Homo sapiens: one gene and its partner. The protein of the gene in region 2 interacts with the protein of the main gene of each other region in a biochemical or structural test. Each region holds a gene or a part of one and is shown on either strand. Other genes may lie near its edges. The genes, in order: TNKS and CACNA1S.

Region 1 (3,820 bases), on a different chromosome or scaffold from region 2:
TAGATTCAAGCTACACGGTGTTATGCTAGGAGATATTCATAGCCACAGAATAAACCTGACCCACTTTTTTGGAGTTTTCATTTTATTTAGTTGAAAGTAGTTTTTTATTTTTAAATTTTAATACGAATATTAAAATGAAGCAGAATAAAAAAGTTGTATAAATATTATGTTAAAACCTAAAATTTCTGAGAATATTTTTCTCTAAACTGCTTCAGTTCTATCATTTTCTTGCTTATCCTTGGGCATATAAACGTCTCCTGTAGTGCTGGGAGTACCTCTGTAGAAGAGCTTAGAAATACTGACTTGTGTGGCTGATGGCCTAATGAAAGATTGAGTAACTTAGTTATAGATTTCTGTAGCGTTGCAGAGGCATACGTATTATGATGCTCTCCATGGAATATATAGTGAATATTTATTGATTGGCTAAGCCAAAAGAAATAAGATCTCTCTTAATGTTTAAGAGCATAATTTCACCTTGGTTTAAACGCTTACGTTTTGTATTTCCACTATACGTAGAAAGAATATGGATCATCTCTGTGATATAAAACATATACATATGTTCTGATACTCTGAGATAACAATGTTTTAAATGGTCAGCAGATACTGTTCAATTCCAAGAGCTACTGTACATATGGAAGTGTATTTTATTAACTTGGTTTTGTTTACTTTATAGCACTGTGCTGTGGCCTCTCTGCATCCCAAACGTAAACAAGTGACAGAATTGTTACTTAGAAAAGGAGCAAATGTTAATGAAAAAAATAAAGAGTAAGTATAATTGCAGAAGGAGTTGTTCAGTTCCTAAAGAGGAAATGCAATAAAAGAGAGACAATTACCTTTTCTTTCTTTCCTCTTTTCTGTAGTTTCATGACTCCCCTGCATGTTGCAGCCGAAAGAGCCCATAATGATGTCATGGAAGTTCTGCATAAGCATGGCGCCAAGGTGAGGCACACACCTGAGCAGAGTGCCAGACTCAGCACTGAGCAGCCAGCTGCTCTTAACACTGCTTCTCTCTCTCCGATTTTTCTGAAGAAACTAATTTTATAAAGGACTATTAGTTCGTACTTAAATTCATGGATTCTCCTATAAAGCTGATTTAGATCTTGTTTCTAATAAAAATAATTACCCGTGTTTCTTGATCCTTTAATGTCACCCTTCTGTAAAGCAACAAAATATAGCTATAGTCATTTGAAATAGATTTCATCTTTACATTACTTTCAGTTAATACTATACGGATATATTTTGATAGTGTCCACTTGAATAACAGTTTATCAGAAAATAAATTATGTTAAATGATAGCATCAGAATAGCTCTACTTATTCTAAAAAACATTTGTGGCCAGGCACAGTGGCTCACGCCTGTAATCCCAGCACTTTGGGAGGCCGAGGCAGGTGGATCACGAGGTCAGGAGATGGAGACCATCCTGGCTAAGACGGTGAAACCCCGTCTCTACTAAAAATACAAAAAATTAGCCGGGCGTGGTGGCGGGTGCCTGTAGTCCCAGCTACCCAGGAGGCTGAGGCAGGAGAATGGCATGAACCTGGGAGGCGAAGCTTGCAGTGAGCTGAGATTGCGCCACTACACTCCAGCCTGGGAGACAGAGTGAGAATCTGTCTCAAAAAAAAAAATTGTATGCCTTCAGATTTGTAATAATTTTCTCAACCTCTACACTAAAGAAATATGACATATTTAATAATTTTTACTGGCATTTTCTGAATGGTGTAGTCTGAAACTTTGTCAAGCACTTAAGAGAGGAAAGAAGCAAACTGGTTGTTTTTTAGAGGTGACTTGAAATTATAGATTTTTTCATTCTCAAGAATGTATATTTCAAAGCAGTTGTCTCCAAAGTAGGGTATAGACTCCCTATGGAGCATACAAGATGCCCTGTTGGAAAAATCCTAGCATTTCAATTTATAATACTTTTATTTAAGAATAAGGAAATTCAGATTTACCAATATTGAATACAAAGATGATGCCAGCACTCTCACTAGGTCCACGTGTCAGCCATTGTGACTCGTGATGTCAAGGTTTCCTGAGGTAAGAGTGGGACTTGTTAGTATCGAGGGATTGACAGTGGCAAACTCACTTGTTTGTTCCCTTTCAGCATATTTTGGCATAGTGTACTTTACTTGTGTCCAAATGAGTTGAATTTATGGATATTATCCTAAATGGTAGAACTTTTATAAATATCATACTTGATCAGAGTAGTGACCCTGACAAGGGACACAGGGAGTGACCCTGACATGCTTTTATAGTGTAAAAAGGTGGTCTGGTTATTTTGTGAAGTAGTATTTTAAGGTGTTGTCATAGTTGTGTTCTTTTTAATGAAAATAAAAGGGTTCAAAATTTGTTAATAGTTCTCTGAGGACAAATGACCATGACTTGCATGTAGATACCCTTTAAAAAGGAAACATAATCAGATCCTTAAAGGTAAAAGTTACACACTTTAGGTAAATGATAAAATAACTGCTTTTTTAAAAGAAACTTTAAAAAATGAAGAGAACGTTTTGAACATAGATTTTTAGAAAATGTTCACTTTTCTGTGATTTTGCTGAAAAATGATATAAATGAATCACCCAGCCGTCATATCTACATAATTTAAACACATAAAAACAGAATTTTCTCACCTGTTCAAAAGCCTTCCTTAATTTGGTTTTAGGGTAGATTTTGAATCTATTCAAAACATTGTAATGCAGCACTTCCTAATAACTTCGCAAGAACATCAGTAAAGATGGAATTTTACTACAGAATTTCAATGAAAGCCTTAGCATAATTAGTAAATTACATTAAAATTAGGCATTCTGATTGAGTAGGCATAGTTAACAATGCATTTATTTCATTGGCTCCATGAATCTGTATGAAATCTTTGCAACTAATATAGCCATTCAAACTAATTATCAAAAATGAACTTAGAGCCACGTGTAGTGGCCCGTAATCACTCCTGTAATCCCAGAGCTTTAGGAGGCAAAGGCAGAAGGATTGCTTGAGGCCAGGAGTTCGACACCAGCCTGGGCAACACAGCAAGACACTATCTCTACAAAAAATTTAAAAATTAGCCAGTCGTGGTGGTGTGCACCTATAGTCCTAGCGACTCGGGAGGCTGAGGCAGGAAGATCACTTGATCCCAGGAGTTTGAGGCTGCAGTGAGGTATGATCATACCACTGTACTGCAGCCTGGGCAACAGAGCAAGACTCTGTCTCTAAAGAAAAATGAAATGAACCTAAAATTAAACCCTCAAATTCCTAATATCACAATTTTTATAAGTTTTTTTAAATGTTTAAACTACAGTCAATGGATATTTTCTAGCATAAGTAATTAAAATATGTTTTGGACAGGTACCATAGCCTATGCCTTAATCCCAGCACTTTGGGAGACTGAGGTGGGAGGATCGCTTGAGCCCAGGATTTTGAGATCAGCTGGGCAACACAGGCCAACCCCGTCTCTACAAATAATAAAAAAAAATAGCCAGATGTGGTGGTGCATTCCTGTAGTCCCAGCTACTCGGGAGGCTGAGGTGGGAAAATCACTTGAGCCCAAGAGGTCGAGGCTGTAGTGAGCTGTAATCATGCCACTACACTGTAGCCTGGGTGACAGAGCAGTACTCTATCTCAGAAAATAATAATCATGAAATCTTTTTAAATTTTTAATTATTTCATCTCTTTCTCATCCTTCATAAATTCTCTTTGTGTAAGTTTTATAATAGTATAGCACTTCTTGGTTATAATTTACAAAGAAATTCATATATATATATTAAGTGTTCTCAAAACTTTTCTACCTGGAGGGTGTGTGATTTAAAAATTTGGATATCACTGCCTTAAAATG
Region 2 (3,820 bases):
AAGGACACAGCACTAGTTGAAGACACAGCTGGCCCTTGCCCCCCGCTGCCCCTGCCACACAGATCTGTGCTGTTCCTATCACATGCCCTTTTTATGGTTGCTGGAGCAGAAGGTGAAGGTGAGGCGGGTGGTACTGGGGGTAAGCAGAGAGTGGATAGAGCTGCCACTGGGCAGGGTCTGGGCACTTAACACCAAATGCCCAGTTTACTATGGAAAGCAAAGCTTGACTCTGCTATAATGTGGAATGCACGTGGTGTTTCCACAGAGTCAAAAGCGACATCAAATGCCAACTGGAACTGTTATGCTTCTAGAACCTCCTGGAAGGCAGGAGCTGGGGGTCTTTTAATGAGAGACAAAAGCATGGCGAGAGTTGGGTGTTGACAAGCAATTGCTCTTGCTTGTCTGGAAGGGACGTGGAAGCCAAAGGGAGGGCAGCGGCTCATTCATTCCTTCAGGGAGCGTGTCTGGTGGGCCTCCTCTGCACCAGGCCCTGGGCAGGGGGCCAGGCAAAGGGATGAGGCAGACACAGACACTGCCCTCAGGGGATTCTGGGGACCCAAGCTTGGCAGAGGAGGGGGCTGGGGAGCAGGAGGTGGACAGCCCTCAGTTGGGCCAGGGGGAGAAGGCTGCACGCAGCTGGCAGAGTGGCCAGACACAATAAACACTCCCATCCCTCCCGTCCCTCCAGGACAGGGACCAACAAGACCTATTCCCCGCGAAGATTCTCTAGGGGCTCCACGCTGCTGCTTCTCTCAGAGCCTGTTCCCTGCCCTCAGCGAGGATTTGGCTTGTAAGGCCCTCAGCTCTAGCAGAGGCCCTGGCTCAAGTATGGAAAACATACTCCATACATGTTTGTTGAATGAATGAATGATTGTAAGATGATGCCATTTCATGTCTAAGACTGACTGGGGTTATGTAATTATGACTTTGAAAGATCGTGCTTTGGTGATAGGAGGAGCAGCTGGGTCATGCAGGAAGTATCAAGGGTGTTGGTGTATACTTAGGAATCAATTTCTCTGTCCTGCAAATGATCTGAGAGCCAGAGACATCTGGAAATCAGGGTTTGTGTGAGGGACATCTTTGTAGGGCTAATTCCTAGAGAGGAACTGAATAGCTGTGTTCTCCTAGGAAAATGAGAAAAGTATAAGGTTGGCTCCGGATGTGAGATGATGAACTCCCAGCCTTAGAGGCTCCTGGTAGATGTGGATGATGCCAGACATACCAGCCAGGAAGATGGGCTGCCGCAGCCCAGCTGCACTGACGGAGGCGGAGTGTGGGGCTGGGATAGGGCGTATGCTTGGCACAGGCCTGGCAGGATGGGAGGAAGCGGGCAAGGGTGGGAAGGGAGAAGAATGGCTGTGGGGCCCTGGGAGGAGGGGCCTCCCTCCCCAAGGAAAAGCCACGTGGGGTAGGGAGAGAGCAGATACAATGGCAACAGTGGTCAGCAGTCAACCAAGAGGCCCGGGATGGATGTCACTGAGGAAACTGGATCTGGACTTGCCACATATTAGCCTTAAAACTCTGTGCATTCAGTTGAAGCAAATTCACTTTGAGTCTCAATAATGTGTTGTGTTGCTTGTGTATTTAATTTTTAAAAGAGCTTAAGATAGTTGCTGTCAGGTTTTCATTTTAGCTTATTAGATCTCTTAAAGCTATTAACCATCATTGAAAGATGGCTGTCTCTTAAAAGTTTGATTTAGGAGAGTTGTATTTATAGATTGAAGTTTCATAGTCATATTTAAAAGATGGACATCAAACTAACCGTTTTCTTGTTTTGTTTGATAGAATTCTAAGTGCATGACAATAGCTTTAAGAGATGGGGCTTGAATTGTATTTAAATTTCAACTCAGTAGACACATGACCCTCTGCTACCATTTCAGTAGTGTTAGAAGCCCATTGACTGTTTCTGAGATTATCATTGGGCTGCTTTTGTGGAACTCAAGGTGCTATTTAAATGTAACGATGTCTTACTGGCTTTCTGCAAACTTATGTGTTTGGTGTGGTGAAGACCTATTTTTCAAAATAAAATATTCTCATATGGAAATCTGTGCATTCGAAGACATCTGTTTTCACAATGTGGGGCTCCTTGTGCTTGAGAGTGGGCACCAGGGCTGGGAGCGGGAGGGGGAGCTGCTCGCGCAGGCTGGGGCTCACCTTGAAGAGCTGGACGCCGATGCAGGCAAACATGAACTGTAGGAGGGTAGTGACCAGCACGATGTTCCCGATGGTGCTGATGGCCACGAACATGCACTGCACCACGTGCTGGGGACAGAGGGGCCAATGGGGACTGGGGGTGCACCCACAGTAACCCTGCTAGCCCAGTTGAGGAAACCCCAGGAGTGCAAGACTTGCTGCCTCCTGATGAGTTGGAGGTGGGGAAAGGCTGGTGGGGAAGCATAGCTACCCCAGCCTCATCCTTACCCCTATCTGCCCAGGGAGATGGGACAGGGGTCCCAGCCATGGCTGGGCTGAGGTTTCTGGAGCGAGGAGGCCCCTGTAACCCCTCCCATTCCTCTCTGGGGCTCCTGCCCGGGCCCTCTCTCACCTTCAACCCCTTGGCTCTGTTGATGGCTCTGAGTGGTCGGAGCACCCTCAGCACCCTCAGGATCTTCACCACGGAGATGGCACTGGACCTGGGGGGCGGCAATGGTGAGGGGGCTGAGGGCAGCCTGCTCCAGCCAGCCCAGTCTGCGGTGGAGCCTCCAGCCATATCCTGCCCTCCACACCAGCTGCCTTTCTGCCTGAAAACACTCCCACCTTCCCCTTCCCTTTCCTCCAGCCGTGAGAGTGTGCCCGACTCCAGGGCACAGCCACCCCTGCTATCTGGACCATGCTCTCATGGGTGTGTCATGAAGCAGAAGACAGCCTTCCCCTGTGGGTGGCTAGAAGCTCCGTCCCTCCCGTCAGACGGTGAGCACCCCAAAGGCAGGGGCTGTGCTCCCCACAGGGTCGGGGAGGGAGGGACCACTTCCTCCTCTCTGCATCTCCTGCCAGTCTCTAGAACAGAGCGCTGCCCACTTCACTGGTGGCAACCCACATTCCAGCTGGTGACAACCCACAGGACCCCCTGCCTCCATCGGAGGCCCCGAGAGACCCTCCTCTTGTGGCAGGGGCCCACCAACATGGGTGGGACTCCCACTACAAAGCCCTGGCACAGAGCAGAGGGTGGTCTGTGCCCAGGGCTGGCCCTTGCCGCTGCTCACTCAAGTCCCATGGAGATGAGGGACACGGCCACCACCAGCAGGTCCAGCATGTTGAAGTAATTGCGGCAGAAGGAACCCTTGTGCAGGAAGGCTCCGTAGGTCGTCATCTGGGGAGAAAGAGGCAGCAGCCTGGATGGAGGAGCTTGGAGAACAGGCCTGTCTCCCACAGACAAGGGCTTCTCGCCTCTGCTCAGGAGAGCACTTACTGAGGCAATAGCCTTCCAGAAATCTCTATATTTCACTCAACTCCTTGCAGTGGCCTAAATGCATTTCCTATCTCTGCTCGCAGTTGTTGAAATGTGAGGACTTCTCACGGGCAGCTGGGCCAGAAGTCTCTTTCTTTACATGCCATAGGGAACCCTGGGTCTCCTTTCCCATGGGGCCACAGAGTGGGGGAGCCCTGGCCCTACTGTCTCCTGTGGGACATAAAACTTCTCCTTCCTGGAAAGCTTCTTGGGCAATCCCCTCTGCCTTGTGGTTTGCTAAGTCAGGCTGAACAAGCCCTCCAGGACTCTAGGGGTCCTAGGCCCTCTCTCCTCCCTCTCCACCTCCTTCCCATCACCTGCCTTCTTGCTCCCCTCTCAGCTTCTTTGATATATTCTCTAATAATCTCCCAT

What was found.
Region 1: the proteins of CACNA1S (region 2) and TNKS interact in a test that uses a peptide from one of them, tested with the Homo sapiens proteins (one large-scale study listed by BioGRID and IntAct).

Annotation. Positions count from the first base shown.
Region 1 is NC_000008.11:9,709,282-9,713,101, forward strand, and holds part of TNKS (poly [ADP-ribose] polymerase tankyrase-1), read left to right. Parts: intron 1-673; coding exon 674-765; intron 766-860; coding exon 861-939; intron 940-3,820.
Region 2 is NC_000001.11:201,063,684-201,067,503, forward strand, and holds part of CACNA1S (voltage-dependent L-type calcium channel subunit alpha-1S), read right to left. Parts: intron 3,311-3,820; coding exon 3,204-3,310; intron 2,634-3,203; coding exon 2,546-2,633; intron 2,263-2,545; coding exon 2,155-2,262; intron 1-2,154. UniProt on the Homo sapiens protein: Pore-forming, alpha-1S subunit of the voltage-gated calcium channel that gives rise to L-type calcium currents in skeletal muscle.